7 linked regions of the Homo sapiens genome follow. The protein of the gene in region 7 purifies or fractionates together with the protein of the main gene of each other region. This does not show direct contact. Each region holds a gene or a part of one and is shown on either strand. Other genes may lie near its edges. The genes, in order: NMNAT1, SUGP2, ZNF638, LTV1, USP36, UTP14A and FGFBP1.

What was found.
Region 1: the proteins of FGFBP1 (region 7) and NMNAT1 purify together in Homo sapiens (affinity purification with mass spectrometry; one large-scale study listed by BioGRID and IntAct). This does not show direct contact.
Region 2: the proteins of FGFBP1 (region 7) and SUGP2 purify together in Homo sapiens (affinity purification with mass spectrometry; one large-scale study listed by BioGRID and IntAct). This does not show direct contact.
Region 3: the proteins of FGFBP1 (region 7) and ZNF638 purify together in Homo sapiens (affinity purification with mass spectrometry; one large-scale study listed by BioGRID and IntAct). This does not show direct contact.
Region 4: the proteins of FGFBP1 (region 7) and LTV1 purify together in Homo sapiens (affinity purification with mass spectrometry; one large-scale study listed by BioGRID and IntAct). This does not show direct contact.
Region 5: the proteins of FGFBP1 (region 7) and USP36 purify together in Homo sapiens (affinity purification with mass spectrometry; one large-scale study listed by BioGRID and IntAct). This does not show direct contact.
Region 6: the proteins of FGFBP1 (region 7) and UTP14A purify together in Homo sapiens (affinity purification with mass spectrometry; one large-scale study listed by BioGRID and IntAct). This does not show direct contact.

What each region holds. Positions count from the first base shown.
Region 1 is NC_000001.11:9,967,475-9,970,974, forward strand, and holds part of NMNAT1 (nicotinamide/nicotinic acid mononucleotide adenylyltransferase 1), read left to right. Parts: intron 1-3,500.
Region 2 is NC_000019.10:19,002,518-19,006,017, forward strand, and holds part of SUGP2 (SURP and G-patch domain-containing protein 2), read right to left. Parts: intron 2,130-3,500; coding exon 1,651-2,129; intron 1,092-1,650; coding exon of another isoform or gene 997-1,091; exon of another isoform or gene 979-996; intron 1-978. UniProt on the Homo sapiens protein: May play a role in mRNA splicing.
Region 3 is NC_000002.12:71,334,782-71,338,281, reverse strand, and holds part of ZNF638 (zinc finger protein 638), read right to left. Parts: intron 1-3,500.
Region 4 is NC_000006.12:143,846,338-143,849,837, reverse strand, and holds part of LTV1 (protein LTV1 homolog), read right to left. Parts: intron 1-3,500. UniProt on the Homo sapiens protein: Essential for ribosome biogenesis.
Region 5 is NC_000017.11:78,830,815-78,834,314, reverse strand, and holds part of USP36 (ubiquitin carboxyl-terminal hydrolase 36), read left to right. Parts: intron 1-3,500. UniProt on the Homo sapiens protein: Deubiquitinase essential for the regulation of nucleolar structure and function. Required for cell and organism viability.
Region 6 is NC_000023.11:129,919,664-129,923,163, reverse strand, and holds part of UTP14A (U3 small nucleolar RNA-associated protein 14 homolog A), read right to left. Parts: intron 2,708-3,500; coding exon 2,584-2,707; intron 2,490-2,583; coding exon 2,412-2,489; intron 2,362-2,411; exon of another isoform or gene 2,222-2,361; intron 1,971-2,221; coding exon 1,577-1,970; intron 1-1,576. UniProt on the Homo sapiens protein: May be required for ribosome biogenesis.
Region 7 is NC_000004.12:15,935,941-15,940,112, forward strand, and holds the start of FGFBP1 (fibroblast growth factor-binding protein 1 precursor), read right to left. Parts: upstream 2,801-4,172; 5' UTR 2,747-2,800; intron 2,532-2,746; 5' UTR 2,311-2,531; intron 713-2,310; 5' UTR 693-712; coding exon 1-692.

The sequences.
Region 1 (3,500 bases), on a different chromosome or scaffold from region 7:
GCAAAGCGAGAAATAAATAGGGGATCTAACCCAGGAAAGAGATGAAGAAGTTTTCAGAATAATAGCTTCACAAATAGAGATTTTTCATCTGGATAAGAGGAGGAGAGTTCCAGAAAGAAAATCCTCTGGGAAAAAAACAGATTGAATAGAATAGCAATTGTAAATTAAACCATTTGAAATTGATGTTTTGTTGATTAAAAAAAAAATTGCTTGCTGAGCACAGTGGCTCATACCTGTAAGCCCAGCACTTTGGAATTGGCCAAAGTGGACAGGTTCGCTTCGAGATTCTGAGCCCAGGAGTTTGAGACCAGCCTGGGCAATATGGCAAAACCCCATCTCTACAAAAAATACAAAAAAACAATTAGCCAGTGCATGCCTGTAGTCCCAGCTGCTTGGGAGGCTGAGGTCGAAGGATCACTTGAGCCTGGGAGATGGAGGTTGCAGTGAGCTGAGATTGTACCACTGTACTCCAGCCTGGACAACAGAGTGAGATACTGTCTCAAAAATCAAAAAACAAAAGACAATTCTAGTAACATAATTTGCAACATTCATAATAGCTATATTCATAGCATGTTTGCTATTTGCCAAATGTAGTTTTTTTTTTTGTTTTTTTTTGAGATGGAGTCTCGCTCTGTTGCCCAGGCTGGAGTGCAGTGGCACGATCTTGGCTTGCTGCAAGCTCCGCCTCCTGGGTTCACGCCGTTCTCCTGCCTCAGCCTCCCGAGTAGCTGGGACTACAGGTGCCCGCCACCACGCCTGGCTAATTTTTTTGTGTTTTTAGTAGAGATGGGGTTTCACCATGTTAGCCAGGGTGGTCTCGATCTCCTGACCTCGTGATCTGCCCATCTTGGCCTCCCAAAGTGCTGGGATTACAGGCGTGAGCCGCCGCGCCTGGCCTGCCAAATGTAGTTCTATGTCTTGGATCTGTATTGTTTCATTTAATCCTCACAACAATCAGGAGGTAGGTAGTATTATTTTCTCCTTTTTAAGATTGATTAAAAACTGGGACAAGGTGGGCACTGTGGCTCATGCCTGTAATGCCAATACTCTGGGAGGCCGAGGCAGGTGGATCACTTAAGGTCAGGAGATCAAGACCATCCTGGCTAACATGGTGAAACCCCGTCTGTACTAAAAATACAAAAAATAATTAGCCAGGAGTGGTGGCGGGCACCTATAGTCCCAGCTACTCGGGAGGCTGAGGCAGGAGAATGGCATGAACCCAGTAGGCGGAGCTTGCAGTGAGTCGAGATCATGCCACTGCACTCCAGCCTGGGCGACAGGGCGAGACTCTGTCTCAAAAAAAAAAAAAAAAAAATTAGCCAGGTGTGGTGGCACGTGCCTGTAATCCCAGCTACTTGGGAGGCTGAAGCAGGGAGGATTGCTTGAACCTGGAAGGCAGAGGTTGCAGTGAGCTGAGATCGTACCACTGCACCCCAGCCTGGGTGACAGAGCGAGACTCTGTCTCAAAAAAAAAAAAAAAAAGCCAAAGAAAAAACCTGGCACAAAAGGAAGGTTAAGTTAGGGTTAGGTTGCCCAAGGTCATGCCGTTGGAGCTGCAATTTGAAGCCAGGCAGCCTAATATCAGAGCATAGGCTCTTAACTCTTCTGTTATATAGGCGGGAAATTGTAGGATACTTTCTTGTAGAGTCTGACTAATCCAAGCAAAAAGACCTGCGGTACTGACAGGTTACTGAACAGTTATGGCCCCTGTGCACAAGCCCTACCTACCCACTCAGCCTGTCCCATCAGCTCTTTTTGAAGAAACTTTAAAATATATCATGAATATTGGTAGAGAAATAGAGATGATAATCTGTTGGGGAAATGAGTAGAATACCATAAACAGGAGTATTCAGAGGATAGGGCTCTTGGAAATTAAGAGTGTAATGGCAGAAGTGAAAACTAGGCAGATTGGAGGATGAAGTTGAGGCTATCAGGAAATTAGAGCATGAAGGCAGGAGGTGGAAAATACAGAAAAAATGATTAGATGCTTCAGCTCTAAATAATAGACATTTTCAGGCCAGGCACAGTGGTTCATGGGCGGCTGAGGTGGGTGGATCACTTGAGGCCAGGAGTTCGAGACCAGCCTAGCTAACATGGTGAAACCCATCTCTACTAAAAATTCAAAAGTTATCTGGGTGTGGTGGTGCATGCCTGTAGTCCCAGCTACTTGGGAGGCTGAGGCAGGAGAATTGCTTGAACCTGGGAGGTGGAGGTTGCAGTGAGCTGAGATCGTGCCACTGCACTCCAGCCTGGGTGAGAGAGGGAGACTCTGTCTCAAAAAAATAAATAAATAATAGACATTTCAAAAGAACAGATAAAATGGGAGGCAGAAAATCATCAATGAAAGAACTCAAGGACATTTTCTAGAACTGAATGTTACAAGTTTCCAGACTGAAAGGACCTGCTTGCCCTGTGCTCAGCATGATGGATAGAAACAAAGCTGCACTAGAGGACAGCACTGTGAAATTTCAGAACACTGCGGACAAAGAGAAGACCTTACATGCTTCAAGACAGGAAAAAAATGACATTCAAAAGCTCCGGAATTAGAAGTGGCTTTGGATTTCATGCTATTAACATTGGAATCTAGAAGTAATGCCTTTGAAGTTGTGAGAGAAGATGATTTTCAACATAGTCTGGAGATAAACTATATTGGGCAGTTTGGGAGAAGGTAGTCAAAGGGTATGAGGGCTAATCTTTATAGATCATAAAGTCAATGGGCACTGTTATAGTTGGATAAATTAAGAAATGGCATTATAAGCACATAATGTAGAGTTATGGTAGAAACTACCAGAAGAAATAGCTGAAAAAGTTAAAAGTGGTTGGATGGAAGGGATGATGAGTGGAATATGATTGATGGCTGTTGGTTTTCATTAAGGGCCTTTTTTACCCTGTGATGTTCTAGATCTATATATATGAATTAGTTGAATAAGAAATTTTAGGCCAGGCGCAGTGGCTCACGCCTGTAATCCCAGCACTTTGGGAAGCTGAGGCAGGCGGATCACAAGGTCAGGAGATGAAGACCATCTAACATGATGAAACCCCGTCTCTACTAAAAATACAAAAAATTAGGCAGGTGTGGTGGCAGGCACCTGTAATCCCAGCTACTCGGGAGGCTGAGGCAGAAGAATGGTGTGAACCTGGGAGGCGGAGCTTGCAGTGAGCTGAGATCGCGCCAATGCACTCCAGCCTGGGCAACAGAGTGAGACTCCCGTCTCAAAAAAAAAAAAAAGAAATTTTAATAAAAACCTAAAATTGGATGCCTTATGTTACTTCATTAGGGTTATGGAAGGATCAGTGGAATAACTGATATGAAAAAGAGGTTTGTAAATTATATTCTATTATTTAGTGGAAAGTTATGATGTTACTATCATGTTGACTAAAAGGCAAAAATGCTGTATTTGGTAGATGATAATATTGTTGTATTAATTAACTGTGGCCACAATAGTGCAATCACAAAACTTGAGTGACATATGATAATGAACACTAATTTTTTGTTTTTG
Region 2 (3,500 bases), on a different chromosome or scaffold from region 7:
TTTTTTTTTTTTTGAGACACAGTTTCGCTCTTGTTGCCCAGGCTGGAGTGCAGTGGTGTGATCTCAGCTCACTGCAACCTTCACCTCCCAGGTTCAAGCGATTCTCCAGCCTCAGCCTCCCGAGTAGCTGGGATTTCAGGAATGCGTCACCACGCCTCGCTAATTCTGTATTTTTAGTAGAGATGGGATATCTCCATGTTGGTCAGGCTGGTCTCAAACTCCCGACCAAAGGCGATCCTCCCGCCTTGGCCTCCCAGAGTGCTGGGATTACAGGTGTGAGCCAGCACACCCGGCGCAGGTCTGGTTTTTATCTCATCAACTACCCAAAGAACTGAGAGCTTCTAATGCAGAAATAAAAAACTCCACCTCCCCCCAAGAAGAGCATACATAACAAGCACTCTGATACACTACCTGCCATCCGTGACAAGTTTAATTATTTACTTCATTTTTTTTACATTAATTTTTTTTTCTTGTAAAGATTAGGTCTGGCCATCTTGCCCAGGCTGGTCTCAAGCTCCCGGGCTCAAGCGATCCTCTTGCCTCAGTCCCGCTAAGCTGGGATTACAGGCACGAGCCACTGCGCCTGGCCCCATGAGAAGTTTTGAAGGATGGTAAAGGTTATAGTAGAATGGTTAGCATTTCACTGCAACACCAAATTTTTCAAACACAAAACATGAGGACTATTCCAAAGCAGGAAAAACCATAAGGCCACTGTCACATGTAAATGTGACTGTCTGAATGATGTAGAACACACAGGTGACTGTTTAACACAGTCCCACAATGGGGCACCATTCACTACAACTTCACACATAGGTTTTGCAGCAGAAGTCCCATGTGAAAGCACGGTCCAGGCCTGACTGTGGGGAGACAGCTTGGAGGGCATTGGGGGCACAGGAGTCATCTGGGCCACGGCGTGCCCATCAAAAGGCCACATGCGATGCAATTCTATGTACTGACAGACTAGGAAAGATAGAATACCTGGGGCTTGGAAAACAGTCAGTGGTTGCTGAATCGGGCAGGGGACTGCAATGGGACAAGAGACCCGTTCTGGGAACAGGCTTCAGCTCTGCTGTACTGGTGGGTTCTCGCCTCTGCACAGTCAACAAAATTCAAATGGTCCACTTGAAAAGGGTGCGTTTCACTGCTGGTAAATTATACCTCAAGAACCCGGAACCTCCCCACAGGAGAGCAGGAGATGGCCTCTCATGGCCGAGGCAGGTCCCACTGACCACTGCCTGGGACCACCCCTGCTCTGTTCCCATCTCACTGTCATGACATGAAGCAGCTTATCAGCACCCTGGGCCTTCCAGGGGCTCAGAAGGGCCCCCAGCTGACAAAGTCACAGGCAGGAAAACAGCTGAGATGACCCAGGCCCATCCCCTCCACAGTTGGGGATGCCCCGACCTGAATCCAGGCAATCAGGGAAATGTCCAGCAGCAAGTAGAGTGCCAGAAGCCACAGGGTAGCAAGGAAACATGTCCTTAGAGCAATGCCTTCAGACCACTGGGAAACATGAGTGTCGGCTCACATTTTGGAGTGGTGCACAAAACTCTTTTGGATTAAAATGTCTCCACCTGTCTCTTCTAACTCTCACAGCCCACCAACCAAGAACTGTGCTAGAGGCAACTGTGCCGACAGGCGGGCACTCACCTTTTGGCTCCTGGATGAGACACACTCTCTTGGGAGCTGGAATCATGCCAACCTTCAATGACTTGCTGCTGATCCTCTTCCGAGGGAAGCAGGTACCTGAGGAGGCCTGTGACAAGGCAGGTGCTCCAGCCAGGTCGTCCTCGGCAGCCTCGCCGGGAAGGCCGTCGGCAGGGGTGCTGCCCTCAGACTTGCCCGCCCCTCCAGGAGCGGGGGCCTCCTCTCCCCCATCCTCATCGTCCTCGTCCTCCTCCTCAGGCATCACCTCTGGGCTCTCCAGCTCAGCCTCCCGCGGAGGGGGCTCGTCTTCAAACTCTGCTTCCCCTTCCATGAGGTCCACGGGGCTCTCCTGAGAACCCGTGGTGTCACCACCACCAGTGTGAAGGTTGTGCGGAGATGACGTGAAACAAATTGATGGACATAGTTCAAACACTTTCTTTCGATAGAATTTGAAAGCAGAACTATTTTGGTCATGTAGAAACCTGGGGCACAGAGGAAATACATTGGGTAACCAGATGGAATCTCTCAACATTTTTATTTGCTGAAACTGCTGGGATTGATCCAAGGAAGGTGGAGGTGGGACAAGGGAAAGAATAACCTGACCAGTCTCTACGCGGCTATGGCTTGATGGTGCAGCCTCTCAATGATAGAAAATTTGAGGAGTACTAGTAACTTAATAAGGAGCTAGAATTCAAGAAGCCTAACTGCTTTCCAGGGGACAGAGGCGGACGAACAAGGTATGCAGGGCTTGGGAAAATGCTGGAATAGAGATCTGGCTTGAGACCCATCTCACCCTTTCTGGTTACATCACTGGCCTCTCTGGGCCTCCATGTGCCCATTTTGACTCTGGTTCCTCCCAGGTATGAGAAGCATGGAGCGATGCCAGGAGGAGCTGCACAGTTACTGCTGGAACATGTGCACCATGGAACCGTAAGGTGCCCCCCGAGGAGGCTCCTCACCCCTAGCACTTCCCGCTCTGGGGCCTGCAGTCCACCTACATGGGCGTGGAGATGAGGCCTCTCTGTGCCTCAGGGGTCTGGTGGCCACCTCGACTTGTAACCACAGCTATGAAGCTGTGGCTGGTATGAGAAACTTGAAACACTCCCGAAAGCACCAAAGTCCACTTGGACCAAAGGAAAAATGGCCCTCGTAAGGCAACTCAACCTCATAAATGTGCCAAGTCCCCCCAGTTAGCATATTAATATATCCCAATAAAATCCCATTCTGAATCAGGGCAAGATGGTTCTAAAGTTCATAAAGAAAAATAATATGTAAGAGTATCTGGGAAAACTCTGAACAAGACTCATAAGGGGTTCCAGCCCCACCAAGCACTATAAAATGCCCCAAAGCCTCTAGAGTTAAACAGCATAGTAGTCCATAAGGCAGACCAAAGGAACAGAATAGAAAGACCAGAAACCCAGCATTTGATTAAGGTAACCTCTCAAACTACTACAAAAAAGGGGTGGGTCTTTCAAAGAATGGTATTGGAAAAGCTGGACGGCTTTATAATTATTATTACACATTTTTAGAGATGGGGTCTCACTCTGTCGTCCAGGCTAGAGTGCAGTGGTGTGATCACAGCTCACTGCAGCCTCAAACTCCTGGGCTCAAGAAATCTTCCTACATCAGCCACCCAAGTAGTTAGGACCACAGGCAAATGCCACTATACCAGGCTAACAAACACACACACACACACACACACACACACACACACACACACACACACACCACACACACACACCACACACACATACAACTAAATATCAGCAGAAACAAATGAATCTGGGCCGGGCATGGTGGCTCATGCCTCCCAGCACATTTTGGGAGGCTGAGGCAGGCAGATCACCTGAGGT
Region 3 (3,500 bases), on a different chromosome or scaffold from region 7:
TGGAGTAGAAAATCATTTTGCAACCATCATAGTAAAGGATGGTTCAGGTAAGAATCATGAGTGGGTGTTACAGAGGTAAATTCTAATGAGCAGGATATTTGCATGGTCTTAAAACGTCTCTCCAGAGATTAATTCCAGGGGGAGTGGGGGGAAACAAGCACTTTAACCATAGCATATGCTCACACATAGTATCATGCATGAAGGGCAAATGGAAATGGTAAATCTCCAGATCTGATATCCTGGGGACATAGCATTAGTTACGTGATTTTTCTGCCCAGGGACATATAATCTACATCTAATCAAGAGGAAACATCAGATAAATCCAAAATGAGAAGTGCTCTATTAAAGAGAAAAGCAAAGCAGATTGTATTCTTCAAAAATGTCAACTTCACAAAAGATAAAGGCAGACTATGGAAATGTTCCAGACTAAGGAAGATTAAAAAGACATAACAACTAAATGCAACATCTGATCTTAGTTTAGTCCTGTACTGGAGGGGGAAAAAAAAACTGCTATAAAAAACAATATTGGGTCAATTGACAAAAACCAGAATACAAATAGTAGACTGAATAATTTTATAGGCTGCGCATTGGCTCATGCACGTAATCTTACTACTTTGGGAGGCCGAGACAGGTGGAATGCTTGAGCTCAGGAGTTCGAGACCAGCCTGGGCAACATGGCAAAATCCCATCTCTACAAAAAATATAAAACGTAGCCAGGCATGGTGGTGCGCGCCTGAGCCAGTACTCCCAGCCACTTGGGAGGATCGCTTGAGCCCAGGAGGCAGAGATTGCAGTGAGCCGAGATCACTCACTGGACTCCAGCCTAGGTGACAGAGCCAGACACTTCCTCAAAAAAATAAAAAAGGATTTTATAAACGTGAAATTCATTGAAGTTGGTAACTATGACTGTGAAAGAAAATATTTTTAGGAAATACACACTGAAGTATTTAGAGATAAAGGACCACAATATATGCAACTTAATGTCAAACTTTTCGGGAAAAAACCATATATGCAGGAGACAGGGAACTCCCCCACCACCTGTCACTTAAATTCATTCAAATATAGTTAATGGCACAACATTTCATGTCCAACATTGGACTATGTGATCTTCTTACTTTATACAAAGTCAAAAAAAAAAAAAAAACTATAGGCAATATGGCAAGAGGCAGAAAACCTGCAGTATAATAAAGAGCATCAGCCTTAAACACATTTTTGGATTTGGCCCTTCTTTTCTACATCATGTTCACTTCCTAACTATTGACTGTTAGTCAGCCTATTATGCAATCCATAATAATCTAATCTTTGGGGAAATTTCCACTGATCTGAAGATACCCACCCTGCTAGGAGGGGTGCCAGTGAATGACTTCATGCAAAATTAGTTAACTCCTTAAGTAAAATTTAGCACTACTAATTCAGCTTTAGAGAGGTAGTGCAGCACAGTCTTTAAGAACTTAGACCCTACATTCAGTGTTTTAACTCTGGTCCTGCTGCTTGCTAACAATGTTACCCTGAGCAAGCTGGTTAATCCAAGCCTATTTCATCCTGTGAAATAACTCTGGTCCCACTGCTTGCTAACAATGTTACCCGGAGCAAGCTGGTTAATCCAAGCCTGTTTCATCCTGTGAAAATGAAACAACAGTACCCATTGGGAATGCTGCTGTGAAGATTAACTAAAATTGTAAATCCTGACATGCAACAGGTGCTCAAAAAATGCTCAACAGTAAACAAAATGCTTAATAGGTGTTTCTTTCTTTTAGTAAGACGAGTAATTTTTGAAAATTATATTAGACATAGGAGTTAATTGCTTACATCCACCTTTCTTTCAGTATTTCCTATATTGAGATCTAGCAATTTGTTTAACAAGCACTTGTGTTTTTTTGGTTTTTTTTTTTTTTTTTTTTTTTTTTTTGGAGATGGAATTTCACTCTTGTTGCCCTGGTTGGAGTGCAAGGGCGCAAATCTCGGCTCACCGCAACCTCCGCCTCCCGGCTTCAAGCGATTCTCCTACCTCAGCCTCCCGAGTAGCTGGGATTACAGACATGCACCACCACCCCAGCTAATTTTGTATTTTTAGTAGAGACGGGGTTTCTCCATGTTGGTCAGGCTGGTCTTAAGCTCCCGACCTCAGATGATCCGCCTGCCTCGGCCTCCCAAAGTGCTGGGATTACAGGCGTGAGCCACCGTGCCCCGGCCTTATCAAGTACATTTTTAAAGTCACATCAAAATTCATGAATTCAGATGCTGATGAAGCAAAAGATTATCTAAATAATGTATAAAAAGCAAAGTTTTTCTTCAAGTAAACTCTAAGAAAAGGTAGGTGGGGAGTTTATAGACTTGAGAGTTATCAATCGTAACCAATTATAAATGAATTATGAACATTAGTTGGATCCTGACTCCAACAACCTTTACCACATATGCATGGGGGTGGGAGGTAGTGAGTTACAACTGGGGAAATTTGATATCTGTCTGAATATCTGACATTAAAATTAATTACTCATAGTTACTGTTGTTTTACGTGTAATATGCATGTTTTCTTCTAAACACTCTAGAGAAAATTCTGAACTATATATTGAACTGATAGAAGCATTTGTTTAAAAATAAGCAAGTAGAGATGAAACAAGACTGACCATTAGCTAGATAATTGAAACTGGACAGGCACATGAATGAATTAGTATCATTCTCTCTACTTTTGTATATGTTTAAAATTTTCCATAGTAAAATGGTTTTGTTTCTTTTTTTTTGGTAAAAATATTTAAAACAAAAGTTGGCAACTTTAACTCAGCAGAGACAATAGGCAAGTTAGCTAAAAGTTTAACCGACTGTGGAAATAAGATAGGAAATTTTTTTTAAAACTTGAATGAACAATAAATATATTTTGGTTCAAAAGAATTAAAAAATAATCCAAAATATATGTTCCTTAGGGTAACCATGAAGAAAACAGGCTGGGCGCAATAGCTCACACCTGTAATCCCAGCAATTTAGGCGGGTTAAGGTGGGAGGATGGTTTGAGTCCAGGAGTTTGAGACCAGCCTGGGCAATACAGCAAGACCTTGTCTCTATGAATTTTTTTAAAAAAGATTAGCCAAGTGTGGGGACGTGTGCCTGTTGTCCCAACTACTCAGGAGACTGAGGCAGGAACATCGCTTGCACCCAGGAGGTAGAGGCCGCAGGGAACCATGGTGGCCTTAGAGAAAGAGTGAGATCCTGTCTCAAAAACAAAGCAAAAAAACATAATGTACGTTAAAGCTATTTCTCCTGTTTCCTGGACTTTCTTTTCAAACCAAAACCCTGGACTTTCTTTTCAAACCAAAACCCTTATTATTCTTAACCCTCACCGGAGTTTTTTTTGTTTTTTTTTTTGGAGACGGAGTCTAGCTCTGTCGCCCAGGCTGGAGTGCAGTGGCGCAATCTCGGCTCACTGCAACCTCCACCTCCCGGGTTCACGCCATTCTCCTGCCTCAGCCTCCCGAGTCGCTGGGACTACAGGCGCCCGCCACCAC
Region 4 (3,500 bases), on a different chromosome or scaffold from region 7:
AAGTTAGGAATGAGCCATTCAACAGCCTCTCCCTCTAAGCCCCCAAGAAAAAAACCAAACCTGCTGATACCTTCATCTCAAACTTCTGACCTCCAGAACCATGAAGGAAGAAATTTCTGTTGTTTTAAGTCACCTAGTTTGTGGTAATTTGTTACTGCAGTCCTAGGAAACTATTACAACTACATTCTGTGTTCTCTCACCTGTGCTCCAGGTTGTATATATGTTAAACATGTATATTCCATCATAAACCCAAAAGTAACTCTCTATAATACATCACAATGCCTTCTCTAGCAAATTATTCCATTTATCCCTCAGATCCCATGAGGTATCACCATGTTTTACCAAAAGAACAAAAACTAGGAAAGTTTAAATGGCCCACCTGCCTGAGAATGATCAGTAAGTGAGATTCTGGGATTCAAATCCCAGAGTTTCTTAACTCCACTTGCCTGAAATTTCAAACCAAAATTAAACATTTTCCTCTTAAACTAGAGATAATGTCCTAATCTCTAGTAATGGCACAGCCCTTGTATGAATTGGCAATCTTAAATCCTCGGGTGGTTATAAATCATTTTGCTCTGTCCTATGTCCCCTTGAAATCTCTTACATACAGTGATTTCACTCTATTCTTTGGGGCATCACCTCATTTATAGTTAACCAAAACATAAATGACTGCAACCGCTCATATAGCTAGTCTATATCTACTACAACCTTCATACCCATGGCGAGATTAAGCTCCTTTAATAGTTTTTCATGTGACCTTCTTGAGTTTCTGACAGGTCTCAATTTTTCACTCTGTATTTAAGGCCCTGGTTCTCAAGGACCTATAAAATCAAGGCCTACTCTGTGTATCCAAATTTCTCAGTTATTCTATATGACCATGCAAATCAAGTTCATTCCTCAGTCATGTAATAATGCAAAACACTTTACTTGGCGCGCATGTGCCTGACACGGAACCACAGTGCTCACTGTCTCGGCAGCCTGACTGAAAATGTTCCTTCTCCTGTCAACAGTACCCACCACTTGGTGGCCAGCTCGGTTCCTACCCTCCGACATGAAGCCCTTTCTGATCACTGTCCTAGAACTTCCCTTTGTGTGAACTTCCCGCCTTCTTCACACGCTGCAATCTACTCAAACATGTGCTTGCTAGCCTACATTCTCTGACTGGTTCTTATGCTTGTTTCCTCTCCTTGACCAAACAGTTCATAACGTGAGGACAACCGCCATGTGTTATTTATCTCTGTGCACCTCACCACCTGCCCTATCCTCAGCCCAGGAGGAGGCACAAAGCTGGAATGTGCATCCTCATTGGCTCACTGAGAAAGCTCTCTGAATTGGAAGCCTCTGAGGAGCATGAGTAAAGGCTACATATGGCAGTGTACACACAGCAAGATGTTATGGCTTCCAAAATGAGTTTCTCAGTAGCACAAACATGGGCAAAGATGTTATTTTGCTGTAGAGTATATTTTTAAGAAAACAGCTTTACTAAGACATCATTCACATACAATTCACCTAAAGTGTACAATTTAATGTTTTTTAAGGATATTACATTATTAATTACTTAAAATTGTAGTAAAATCTACATAGTCTTTTAGGTTTTTAAAAAGGTACCTTTGTGATATTTATCCTTAGAAGTTTGGGGTTAAACACAAGGTCAGTTTGTGTTAAATGAATTTACCTTTGTGAGATATTTTTCAAATCTTGAAAAGTAGTCAATCACATACACGATTAAGAGTTTAAAGAGAAATTACTCTGTTTTTAGAGGAGTGCTGTGTTTTCATTGGTTGCAGTAGTTCTCAACTACATGACATTTGCCCAGCTACTTTCCACAACAGCACCACCATCTTTCTTTCATGTCAAAATCAGGGCCTGCTCAAGCATCAATCATTTCTATACTGCCTTTTTACACTGTCTTACACTGTTTCTAGGGGTTATTCATTATTTCTAATCTACTCGAATTTGGTGGTGTGTTACAAATTAAAGTAAAAAAAGTATATGGGACTAATCCATATTTTTTCATAGCTCTTCAGAAAACCAACCACACTTCTGTTTTTAAATACAATTCAGCTGTCCCTGCAAAGGTCACTGAAGTGTCCATTTAAGAGCCTTATCCTGTTAAAAAGCCAATTAGTGATTGCTTTTACTCAAAATGAATTAAGGATTAAAAGTTAGTCTTATACGACCGGGCGCGGTGGCTCACGCCTGTAATCCCAGCACTTTGGGAGGCCGAGGCAGGCAGATCACCTGAAGTCGGGAGTTCAAGACCAGCCTGACCAACACGGAGAAACCCCGGCTCTACTAAAAATACAAAATTAGCCGGGCACAGTGCCACATGCCTGCAATCCCAGCTTCTAGGGAGGCTGAGGCAGGAGAATCGCTTGAACCCGGGAGGCGGAGGTTGCGGTGAGCCGAGATCGTGCCACTGCACTCCAGCCTGGGCAACAGGAGCAAAACTCCGTCTCAACAACAATAACAACAACAACAAAAGTTAGTCTTGTACTGGTCAATACAAGCCAGGCAAGACTTTACTAAGAATTTTCTCCCTTAGATAAACAAGTTGAGCCACTAAGGAACCCCTTCTCTCCTTCAATAGGTTATAGAAGCAAGTGAGCCAATAAGTCCCTACTACCAATAAAGCCTTGAGGAAGAAGGAATAAAGAAGTTGGTTCTCTATGACAGAGATGTGGTGGGATTTGGGGCGTTACAAAAGAGCCACAACCTACTTAGTGAACGAGCAGCTGCAGTTATTACCTTTCTTTGGGATGGTATCCTGAAACCTAACCTTTCTGAGTCTCCTTAAGCAACAAGCTATTGCCTATAAGAACTACAATCACATCTTCCCCAAGGAAAGGAATGCCTAGACCATGACAGAATTGGGGAATGAGGAGCAGGGTAAACTGGTGCCCTTTCTATCTCTTACCTTTTGCTTATAAACCTAATGAATGTCTCCTTTTTTTAAAGTGCTAGGTGATATAAAAGTTTCCCACAGGAAAATTTACTCTACATCAAATTAAAAATAAGGTCACGGAGGCATACAACATGGGCATTCTTAACATAAACAGGGGAGAAAACAGAACTTAGACTAACAGCACTAATTTCTTATAAACACGTACTATCATTTGTCCTGAAAGAGAAGGTATTAAAGTGGACCGAACATTTGTTTACAAGACAGGAATGTTATTATCATCCACTCATTCTGTTTGCTTATGAGTAGCCTGCAGCTTTTACAAAAGTGTTAAAGATCTGAATATTCCACAAAAGTTAAGTCCTATCTTAGAACAAGAGTTTATGATCCTGAAAACAGTTATGTTGTTAACATGTAGAATGTCAGCTGCTTTTCTCCTATTGAAAAGTGCTGTCTAACATGGCCATGTCTATCAATCAAAAGTTCTGAACCTATAAAAAGGCTGTTACTGTTGACACCTGCCACCAGAGAAGACGTGACCTATTCTCTCCTGATGGTATACACATGCATACACATATATAATTTTAAGTGGAGGCGT
Region 5 (3,500 bases), on a different chromosome or scaffold from region 7:
ATTGGTTAAAAATCTTCCCATAAAAAACCCCAAGCAGAGACAATGTTATTTCTGTGTAACTTTTTTTTTTTTTTGAGACGGACTCTGTTGCCTAGGCTGGAGTACGGTGGTGTGATCTCAGTTCACTGCAACCTCCGCCTCCTGGGTGCAAGCAATTCTCCTGTCTCAGCCTCCCAAATAGCTGGGACTATAGACGCACGCCACCACGCCTGGCTAATTTTTGTATTTTTAGTAGAGATGGGGTTTTACCATGTTGGTCAGGCTGGTCTTGAACTCGTGACCTCAGGTGATCCAACCGCCTTGGCCTCCTAAAGTGCTGGGATTACAGGTGTGAACCACTGTGCCCAGCCAATTTCTATGTAACTTTTAAGAAACAATTCCAATCCTTTACACGTTCTTCCAAAGAATAGAGGAGGAGAGAATCTTTCCCAGCTCATTCTATAAAGTTCCTATAACTCGGATAACAATAATAAGGAAAATGCGAGAAAGAAAATGGATAACCACAACTTCTTCACGAACATAGATATAAAAATTGTAGGAAAATACTACCAAATGACACAGTTTCTAAAAAACTGTAAGCAACTTATGTTTATCCTAGGAATGCAGGATGTTTTCATCGCAGAAAATCTCTAAGTAGAATTCTGGAGGGAGCAGAGCAGTTGAAAACACAGCTCAGGAGCCTGGCCTGTAGGGTTTGCTTCCCAGTTTGCCCCTTAGTAACTGTGAGTTTTTGAGAATGTCCCTGGTCTATGGAAGAATGAGACTGTCTTCCTTACAGAGTTGCGTGAGGCTCCGATAAATTCTGAGTGAGTCAAGTGCCTGGAGTAGCAGCCCGCAAAGAGGGAGTGCTATAGAAGTGACTGCTACTGGCTGGGCACGGTGGCTCACACCTGTAATCCCAGCTACTTGGGAGGCTGAGGCAGGAGAATCACTTGAACCTGGGAGGCAGAGGTTGCATTGAGCTGAGATCACACCACTGCACTTTAGCCTGGGCAACAGAACAAGATTCCGTCTCAAAAAAACATAAAAAAAAGAACACAAGATGGCCATGCAGTGGGAAGTGTTTGTAAACATCTTGCTAATTGCGATGGCTTCATAGCAGCAAAGGTTAATTATCAAGGCATAGTTGTTGAGATGAAGCAGCACATTGTTTGGGGGCGTTTTTTGGAGATGGAGTCTCGTTCTGTCGCCCAGGCTGGAGTGCAGTGGTGCAATCTCGGCTCACTGCAACCCCCGCCTCCTGTGTTCAAGAGAGTCTCCTGCCTCAGCCTCCCAAGTAGCTGGGACTGCAGGTGCCCGCCACCACGCCTGGCTAATTTTGTATTTTTAGTAGAGACGAAGTTTCACCATGTTGACCAGGCTGGTCTTGAACTCTCGACCTCAGGTGATCTGCCTGCCTCTGCCTCCGAAAGTGCTGAGATTACAGGCATGAGCCACCGTGCCCTGCAGAAGCACATTGTTGAGATGGCTAATTGTAGCCCCTATTTCCAGTGGTGACCTTGGTAATTTTGAGGTGGTTCTGGGTGGACTTTCAGTAAGATTTGACTAGATGGCTGTTGTTTTCGTCTCATGGTTTTGGCAGTAAGACTCTGCTATCCCAGGCCTGTCAGGGCTCTTCCACTGTAGAGCTGCCTTCCATTCTTGGTTTCTCTGCAGGATCTTTTTGAGCCAGTTGCCAACTTTGTGAGGATTAATTTAGTTAAAACTAGATAATATCTGTAAATCCCCGTAACCTGGCACAGGTAAGCTGCAGTTTGTTGCAGCATGTCAGCAGCAAGCGTGTGAGTAAGGCAGCCATGGCCATCCCTTCAAGGGGAACGCCTGGTCTTCCTTCCAATACCGGTCCCATGGGCCAGTATCACTGTGAAATATTAGTGCATCTTACTATCTTGGAACATATGAAGAGACGTTGTGGCCTTTTTTTCCTGCACCCCACTGGATCCTGAGTGACCCCTAAGTGGGCTTTGGCTGTGGTCTCCCCCTCCTAGCACATGGCATTTGAAGAGTTGAGGATCCTAAGGGGTGTTTGTTCTGACGAGGGTCCACTGTGCACGTGGCACGGAGCAGCAGCTCCTGCCGTAGGCTGGACTGTCTCTGGCGCTAATATTTAGCTAGAAGAGAAACACTGTGTAAATAGTCTAGGAGGAACGCAGTTCAGTCCTGTCCTTTTGTTTCCCAAATCTCTCTATGTCCGTGTAGTCATGGATTGACTTTTGAGTTATATTTTCCTAAATTACATGAATAAATATTTGTCCATGTGCCACTTAAATTAATCTCATATATTGCTGGAGAACCTGGCTTAGATTGTTATTTACCCTGTTAAGAGTGATATTTTATTAGGCTGAAAGAAGCTTTTTTTTTTTTTTTTTTTTGAGACAAGCTCTCACTCTGTCACGCAGGCTGGAGTCCAGTGGTGTAATCATAGCTGACTGCAACCTCCACCTCCCAAGCAATCCTCCCACCTTAGCCTCCCAAGTAGCTGGCACTATAGACTCATAGCACCATGCCCAGCTAATTTTTTTTTTGTATTCTTTGGGTAGAGATTTGGTTAGGCAGTGTTGCCCAGGCTGGTCTCAAACACCTGGGCTCAGCGATCCTCCTGCGTCAGCCTCCCAAAATGTTCGGATTATAGGTGTGAGCCACCATGCCCAACCAGCAGCGTTTTATATATAATGATTAGAGGCTTAATTTCTACACAGTTTTTTGAGACAGAGTCTCTGTTGCTTATGCTGGAGTGCAGTTGCCACAGTCTCGGCTCACTGCAACCCCCACCTCCCAGGTTCAAGCGATTCTCTTCCCTCATCCTCCCAAGTAGCTGGGATTACAGGTGACTGCCACCACACACGGCTAATGTTTGTATTTTTAGTAGAGATGGGGGTCTCACCAAGTGGCCAGGCTGGTCTTGAACTCTTGACCTCACGTGTTCCACCCGCCTCACCCTCCCAAAGTGCTGAAATTACAGGTGTGGGCCCCCATGGCCATTTTCTTTTGTAGTAAAACTGTATCTTACCTGAAGTTAGGTTTTGGAAAAAAAAGAGCTCTTCAATATTTATGTTGTCCCTTTTTTTTTTTTTTTTTTTTTTTTTTTTGAGATGGAGTTTCACTCTGTCGCCCAGGCCGGAGTGCAGTGGTGTGATCTTGGCTCACTGCAACCTCCGCCTCCCAGGTTCAAGCGATTCTCCTGGCTCAGCCTCCCGAGTAGCTGGGACTACAGGCACGTGCCACCATGCCTGGCTAATTGTTTGTATTTGTAGTAGAGACGGGGTTTCACTGTGTAAGCCAGGATGGTCTCAACCTCCTGACCTCGCGATCCACCTGCCTCGGCCTCCCAAAGTGCTGGGATTACAGGCGTGAGCCACTGCATCTGGCCTGTATTTTCTTTTAAATGACATAATTTTTGCCTAATTTTGAGTTCACCAATCATTATTGTCATTTTAAAAATAAAAGTAATAACATGGATATAGTTAGAAAAGGCAAGCAGAAGTCTAAAATGAAAAAAA
Region 6 (3,500 bases), on a different chromosome or scaffold from region 7:
CTTTGGACACATGTACGTTTATTTCTCAAGAATCAGGTTTCCTTGCTCATTTTCACTGGGGTCCGTGGCTTTCCAGTATTTTAGGACACTCTTGGAAGGTGTGAGAAAATTCAATTTATTTACTGTCCAAGGAAATGCAAATCTATCTTTCATTCTTTCATATCACAGTCAGCCGCTCTGCACATTTAGCTAGATGGCCAGTTGTTGAGGGGGCTCAAGAGAAAGCCACTAGGGTCCTGTGGTCATATATGTACACCCCCACAATCTCAGCCCGCTGTGCTGCTTTCCAAAATTCTCTCAGAAGTGACTACTTGCAATTATTAATCCCAAAAATATCCAGCCAAAACTATTAAGTAAAGGTCCCTATAATATATTCTAAATGATAGCTCTTTTAAAATAAATTTTTGTATGTGGAAACCTGAAAAAAAAAAAGGAAAAAAAAAAGGAGGCTGGGTGCGGTGGCTCACACTTGTAATCCTAACACTTTGGGAGGCTGAGGTGAGAGGATAGCTTGAGGCCAGGAATTCAAGACCAGCCTGGGCAACAGAGCAAGACCTCAGTCTCTACAAAAACTTAGCTCAGCATGGTGGCACGTGCATGTAGTCCCAGCTAGTTGGGAGGCTGAGCCAAGAGGATCGCTTGAGCCTGGGAGGTCTTAGGCTGCAGTAAGGTATGATTGCACTGCTGTATTCCAGCCTGGATGACAGAGCAAAACCCTGTCTCTTAAACAAAAAAAAGTAGAAAAAAATAATTCTTTTGCCGTGTAAAACCAGATTTTTGCCATCATCTAAATGCATTCCTATGTGAAACCAAACCAGACCTGGTAATTTGTCCAGATAGCCAAGTGATTTCTCAATGTAGCTAGTTTCCTAGGCAGGTTTTTTAGTGTCCTGGTTTATTGCCAGAATGGGAACTCTCTGACCAATCTCACAGGTGCTAACATTGTCAATAAGATCTCTTCAAGATAACAGGTAGAAAATATAACATACAAATAGAGCCTGAGTATGGAGTCACAATTCTAATTTGCCATGTGGCCCTGTGGAGTCATTCATTCCGTAAAGTCTCACCCCATGTATACACACATCAACTAGCATTAAGAAGTGCTAAAAATGCCACTCCTACTTAACCAACAAAACAAAAAAATCCAGCAACTAGACAATGTTTCCTAATGTCTCAAAATTGACCTATCTGTGTCTACAGGTGTGAATGGACTTTCAGATTTGCCATTCTACCATACGTACTTCTCCCTGGTGTGTAGGTACCAGGAACGCTAACTCATACCCTGACTTCGAGTATGGTTTAGTTATTATGGGTTTCTGAAGGCTGTAAGCCCCCAAGAACAGAAAATGTGCCTGAACCACGTTGCACGGCCATGCAGATGACTGCTTATTAAATGTCTTCGAAGAAAAATAGTTATGAATCTAATTTCTCTTCAGGGATCCAGTGTACGCACTCTTGCAAGTCCCCAGCGCCTAATCACTATGCAGTTTTGTGTGTGGGTGGACACATTTTTTTTTTCTCCCATAGTCTGTCCACAGCACTAGGAATTTCCCTCTTCCATTTGATCACAGCTCACCTTTTGTTTCTTGACTGCCTGCTGGCTCAGCATCTTGGCTGAGCTCAGATCTTTTTCTAAGGGATCGCCTTTCCTCAAATTCTCTCAACAAAATTTCTTCTTCTGCCACTGGTCTTTCTTCTCCCTCACTTTCAGAAACTCCATGGGCCTCAAGCTCTGGCAGTTGCTCAGGGTCCTCCTGGGTTGCAGCCTCTTTGGTGTCACTGGTGCAGCTCCTGAGCATCCAGGGATTCGGCCCATCTGCATTCATCTGCACTTCATTCACTACATCAGGGACAAGGAGTTCTTCCACATCTTCTGTGCCTCCCTCCTCTTCCTCACTCTCAGAGGCTACCTGGAGTTTCTGTGTCAGTTCTTTGTTCTTAGACAACTGTTCCTGCATAGCTTGGCGAGCCTGGAGGAAAGAGTCACAGCATGAGAGCCCTGTCATTAGTGACCGCAATAACACCTTTCCTGGTCCATTTCATAAAGCTGCCTCCTCTCAATTTGACTTGGTGAGTATTTCTTACTGGTACCTACTGTTTAAACTGCATATACAATGCTGGGTTAATAGCTATGGTATAAAATGGAAGACAAATTCTTTGTCCTCAAGGAATCAACGGTGAAATAAGATTTTAAAAAGCTCCTCTCCCCCTTTGGACTTGCCTTCAATGCTGTTTCCCTTTCATCTCTCCTTTTCCACCTTGTTCCTGGTCATTTTCCTTTCTGCCTTAGAGATTTTTCTGATGCCTTTTTAGATTCCTGGTTTTCCATCCATCCTCATGGCTCTTCCCCAACTCTGCTTCTGCTAGCATCCTCCAATTCCAGATCTTCTCTCACCCCAAGGGTCTCTTACCTCCAGGTCATATTTGGCCATAATTGCCTTTGACTTGGCCCATTTCCCACTGTTTTGGTGCTTAAGGCTCATTCTTTCCTAGAAAGAAAGGACAGAGTGAGATTTACATCTTTAGTGCCTTCCAAGGAAAGCTGGTTCAAAGGGGTGGGGGTGGGGCAAGAGGTAGTCTCACCATCATTCTGGCCTTTTCAATTTTTTCCAGTTCTTCTAGTGCTGCAGCTGGATTAACCTTCCGCAGCTGCTCAAACTCTTTTAGGGCTTTCTTGGCCTTTCCTTTCTTCACGACTTTGTGATACCTGTAGGGGTAGGAGGGAAGAGTTTAGCAATTTAGCTGAAGCACGGATGTCATAGGCACAAGTGCCCATACTACCCAATGGGTTCCCTAGGCAGGGGGCTGGAATGGGCATCATAGAGCTAGTTGGCTATAGGGAGTCAGTTTGGGACCTGACAGGACTGGCAAGATTCTTGGTACCCACAGTCCTCAGGGTGGACCTCTGCAGCTCAAAGAGTCTCCTTTGCCTCTATAACTCAAGGGAGGGGTAGAACAAGTTTCATTTTTTTTTTTAGACAGGGTCTCACTCTGTCACTCAGGCTGGAGTGCAGTGACATGATCTTGGCTCACTGCAGCCTCCACCCGCTGGGCTCAAGCGATCCTCCCGCCTCAGCCTCCTAAGTAGCTGGGACTATAGGTGCACATTACCATGCCTGGCTAATTTTTGTACTTTTAGTAGAGATGGGGTTTCGCCATGTTGGCCAGGCTGGTCTTGAATTCCTTACCTCAAGTGATCCACCTGCCTGAGCCTCCCAAAGTGCTGGGATTACAGGTGTGAGCCACCGTGCCCAGCCAGTTTTGCCATGTTGCCCAGGCTGGTCTTGAACTCCTGAGCTCAAGTGGTCCATCCACCTCGGCCTCCCAAAGTGCTGGGATTACAAGCATAGCCACCACACCCGGCCGAACAAGTTTCAAAGAGGCAAAAAGGCAGGAAGGAAGCCCTATTGGCCTTAACAGCTCTGGAATTCAGAGCTGATTCTGCAGAACCACTCTGTGATGCCTTGGAAGGCAGAGAAAGTAACTGAATAGTCATCTTT
Region 7 (4,172 bases):
TCCTGCACTATGCTGAGGAAGAATGTGCAGAGAGAGCTCCAAGTCTCTCCACAGAACTCCAGGGCAGTCTTCCTCTGGTTTGCCATATCTGGGTCCTCCACACACTCGGGAGCTTTGGTGGCCATGGTCTGGGTCACTGCTAGGCTAGAGGGGGTGGTCTCTTTGCCTTTGATGTGCTCCCTGGGGGACATCTCTGTTTTCTCCTTCCTGGGCTTTGTGTTCCCAAATAGAGTGGAGCTGACTAGCTTAAGACTGGATTCTGGAAAATCCTTTCTGCACACTCTGGTTTTCACAGCTGTCTTGGAATATCTACAGATGTCTTTCTGTGAGCGCAGATTCCGGGCAACTTGTTTCCAATAGACTCTCTCATCCTTGAGCTTTAGGCATGAGGTTGGATTGCCAGCAAAGACACAGGAAAATTCATGGTCCAATTGAGTGCACTCAACCTTGAGAGAGATGCCCTCCTCCTGCTCAGTAGCAGCCCATCTGCAGTTGGCTTGGTCTTTGGTGACAAACTTGCCTTTGTTCCCGGGCCTGCTTTTCTGCTTAATCTGGGTGTTGCCCAGAGTGTCCTTTTGTTCTGAGACCACTTTGCTGTGAAGTCCATTCTTCACTTTTTTTTTCCCCTCCACCAGGAGCACCTGAGCAGCCAGTAGGAGGAAGGAGAGCAGGGTGAGGCTACAGATCTTCATGGCTGCAGCTGGGCGTTCACCTGTTTGACAAAAGGCAAGTGAGTCAGTGGCAGGCAGCAGTTCAGCTGTGCAGGACTACACGCTGGCCTCCCCCTACCCTGACAGGTGCCTACATGATTTCAGAGTAGACCAAGAACGCTTCTGGCTCCTGGAGTCACTAGACAAACAGCCTGTCTACTCACATTTCCACTTGACTTGAGTCTTGAGTGTCACAAAAGTACCACTCTTTGGAGCCTCACGAACTCTCATTTATCATTTATTCACTCATTAACTCCTGCATCTGCTCACTCCTCACTCTTTCATTCACTCATTCAACAAGCATTTACTGAGCACCTACTATATGCCCCCCACCAGACTAGGTGTTGAAGAAATCACCATGATTGAGAAAGCCTCAGATTTGAAAGAGCTTAGAGACCACTCTTTGGGAGAATTTAAATAGCATTGATCAGGGAATCTATCCCGTCATCTCTGTTTCTGATATGAAACAAGTTACTGCTCCAAACTTTCAGCTCCAAAGGGCTGGATTTCTATCTCATGACTCCATATGGACACAGATGCCCAAAATGAGAAAAGACATGACAGATGCCCAAAATGAGAAAGGATGTGGTAAGCATCATGAAAGGTGATGTTGACCCAGAGTTGAACATGCCTGGGGTTTGGGTGGGGTGGGTGGGGTTGTGGGGGTGGGGGAGCTTTTTGTGGGGAAGTAAGAGTTTAAGGAAAGGTGTGAGGTGGGGTGGTTGTCTGATTTGCCTGGGCAAAGTGAATCAGGGTGGAGAGAGGTGAATTTCAACCAGATAGTTCACACTACAAGATCGAAGACAAGGATCATGAGAAATCATTGAATCAATAGGATGAACACCAACGTCACACTGAACTGCATGAATCTGATCATGTGTACAATAAAAACCCATGCTTAACAGAAGAAGAGAAGTCAGTTTCTATATGACACCTCCTGTGTGCTAAGTACTGGTCTAGGGTTTGATTCCCACCTTGTGAAATCCACACAAGAGCTCTTCCAGGTAGCTATTAATATGTCATCCCAGGTGACAGCTCTGACTCTTAAGGCTCAGACAGGTAAGTAAATTGCTCAGGATCTCATAGTGGGCAAGTTCAAAGCTGGTATGGGTAGCCAGATCAATCTCCTTATTCCTTTCTGTCACCCCTGGTTGATCACTTTTTGCTTTTCACATTTACTCTGCCCTTTAAAAACATTGCCAAAGAATAAGAAAAACAACTATGAACAATGACAATTTAGTTTCATATAACACATAATGATAAGATGATTTGTATTATTTGTGCTCCATTTAAAACAAAACACAGAATTTTTTATAAAAAGAGGCAGACCCAGGAAATGGTCCTGATCTGATTTCTACCCTAGAAGTTGGCCATCTTCTAGGGTTAAGAAGGAGAAAGACAATCACAAAAGGGCAGAGAACAGCAATAAATGGTGAAGAGGAGACTGGATATGCCAGAAAAACACCCAGTCATTTCTCACGGCCCTGGGGCTCAGCCCCCACCTGCCCATGATGGAATGCAGGCCCAAGGAACTCCAGGCCCTTGGTGGAGTGAGAAGTGGCAGCAGGTAATAAAGCTGTTAAAGGAGCGAGGCTCTTACCTTGTTCTGAGCACACGGATCCAGTGCAATCCCAGGCAGTGCGAGTGAATTGCAGGCTGCAGCTGTGTCAGGTAGAGTGCAAGGGGGGTAGACTATTCAACAGGAGCCAGGCTGACTGGGTTTTTATAACACTCACTGGGTTTTTACAACACTGTGGCACGTTACTCACAGCTCCTCCCAGCCACGCCCCTCCGAGGGAGCCGGTTCCTGCAGGGAAAGTGCTGGATGTAATCCAGTGAAAAGGGGGGTTACCTGCATGCCATCAAACGCTTCCTCTAGGCCCTTCCCTGTCCACCCTGTGGCCAGGATAGGAGGACAACTCAGCCTCACAGTGACCCTCCTTGATGGGGAGAGGACCCCAGCAGTGATGTCTATGGAGGAGTAAAATAACTATAATGACATGATCCGAGCTGCCAAACTACTGAGCCCATTTTACCTGAGTTCTCCTTTTCCCTCATCACATCCGCTCTAGTAGGGAGTGCAATGATTCCTCCCCTTTTACAAAAGCAGGAATTGGTTCTGGAGATATGTAAGAGCTTGTCCAAGTTCACAGAGGCAGGAAAAGGAACATCTCAAAATTAAAAGTGAGATTCTCTACATCCATGGTCTGATCTCTTCCTGCCTGCCACTCTCAATAAATCTTTGTTGAATGGGTGACTGAAGTTGCCGAAGTTTTCGTAGTGTCTGAGTTCCTTTTTCCATCTGAAGTTACTACATAAGCAGAGGATACCCTAATTCTAGAGGCAGGGAAATTTACATTAAAAATTCCCTCTTTTTTATCAGGGAATTCTACCAGGCTCTGAGAGGCTGGTAAAGAGGGAATTTTTAATATAAGATTACTGTTGTAAATACTTACCTTCAGGTCTCATTCAGAGAGCTCAGGCTGCCCTGCCTGCTACAGGCACAGTCCCACACCAGAATGACCCAGGTGGAATCCTGGCCACAGCATGTGTTTAGCTGAGTGCTATGCCCAAACCACTTAGCCTCTCCCATCATCCATTTGCAGTGTGCTGACAATAACAACGTCTCCTTTATAGCTGCATACTAAATTTTTACTGGGCTAAGCTGTTAACATAAAGTGGAGCAGAATCGTTTTGCCTCATGACAGGGTCTTAAGTTGTATACTTTGAAAACAGACATTTGTTATTTACATATGCAGCATTTAAAAAGAAACTCACTTCTACAGGGAAGATGTGGCCCTCATTATATATTATCACCTCACCTTTCATAGATTTTCAGAAGAAGAAATTGTTCACTTTTCCTTAATTCAGCCATAAGAAAACTATTGTTTAGTGTGATATTAAATGGCAACTGACTTTTGGGTTTGAGATAAGGCAATAGGGAGTGATGGGGACTGTGGCAAACTAGAGAGTCTCTGCCTCCATAGAGGTCAACACTCATCTCCAATTGACTGAGAAAATGCAGGGATTAGGCTCAGTATTGTCACACTGTCTGATTTTTAAAATGACATCCCCAAATCCAGATGTGTTTATATGAAATTGGTTGGCAGCTAATTAAAATTTTCTAAAAATAAAGCTGTAGCTCAACACTATGCAGGCCAAAACTTGTAACTGTGTTTGGATTTTATGAACGATCCACCTGTTTGAGAATTCCGTGGTCATAGCTATAGATGTTGACCAATTTACTCAGAGGCTCAGTCTCTGCATGAATCTGTTGGAAGAAGCCATTTCTGAAGCTGTGTGCCTCTCTCCTAAAATTGCCTCACCCAGGGGTCCGTCCTCACTATCCTCACAAACACCCCGCTGAGGCCCTGACCTCCACGAACAGGCTCTCTCATGCGGTATTTTGGAGGATTATTTGGACATAGGCAAGGCAAAGCTGCTTTGCTCAACAAGGGGAGT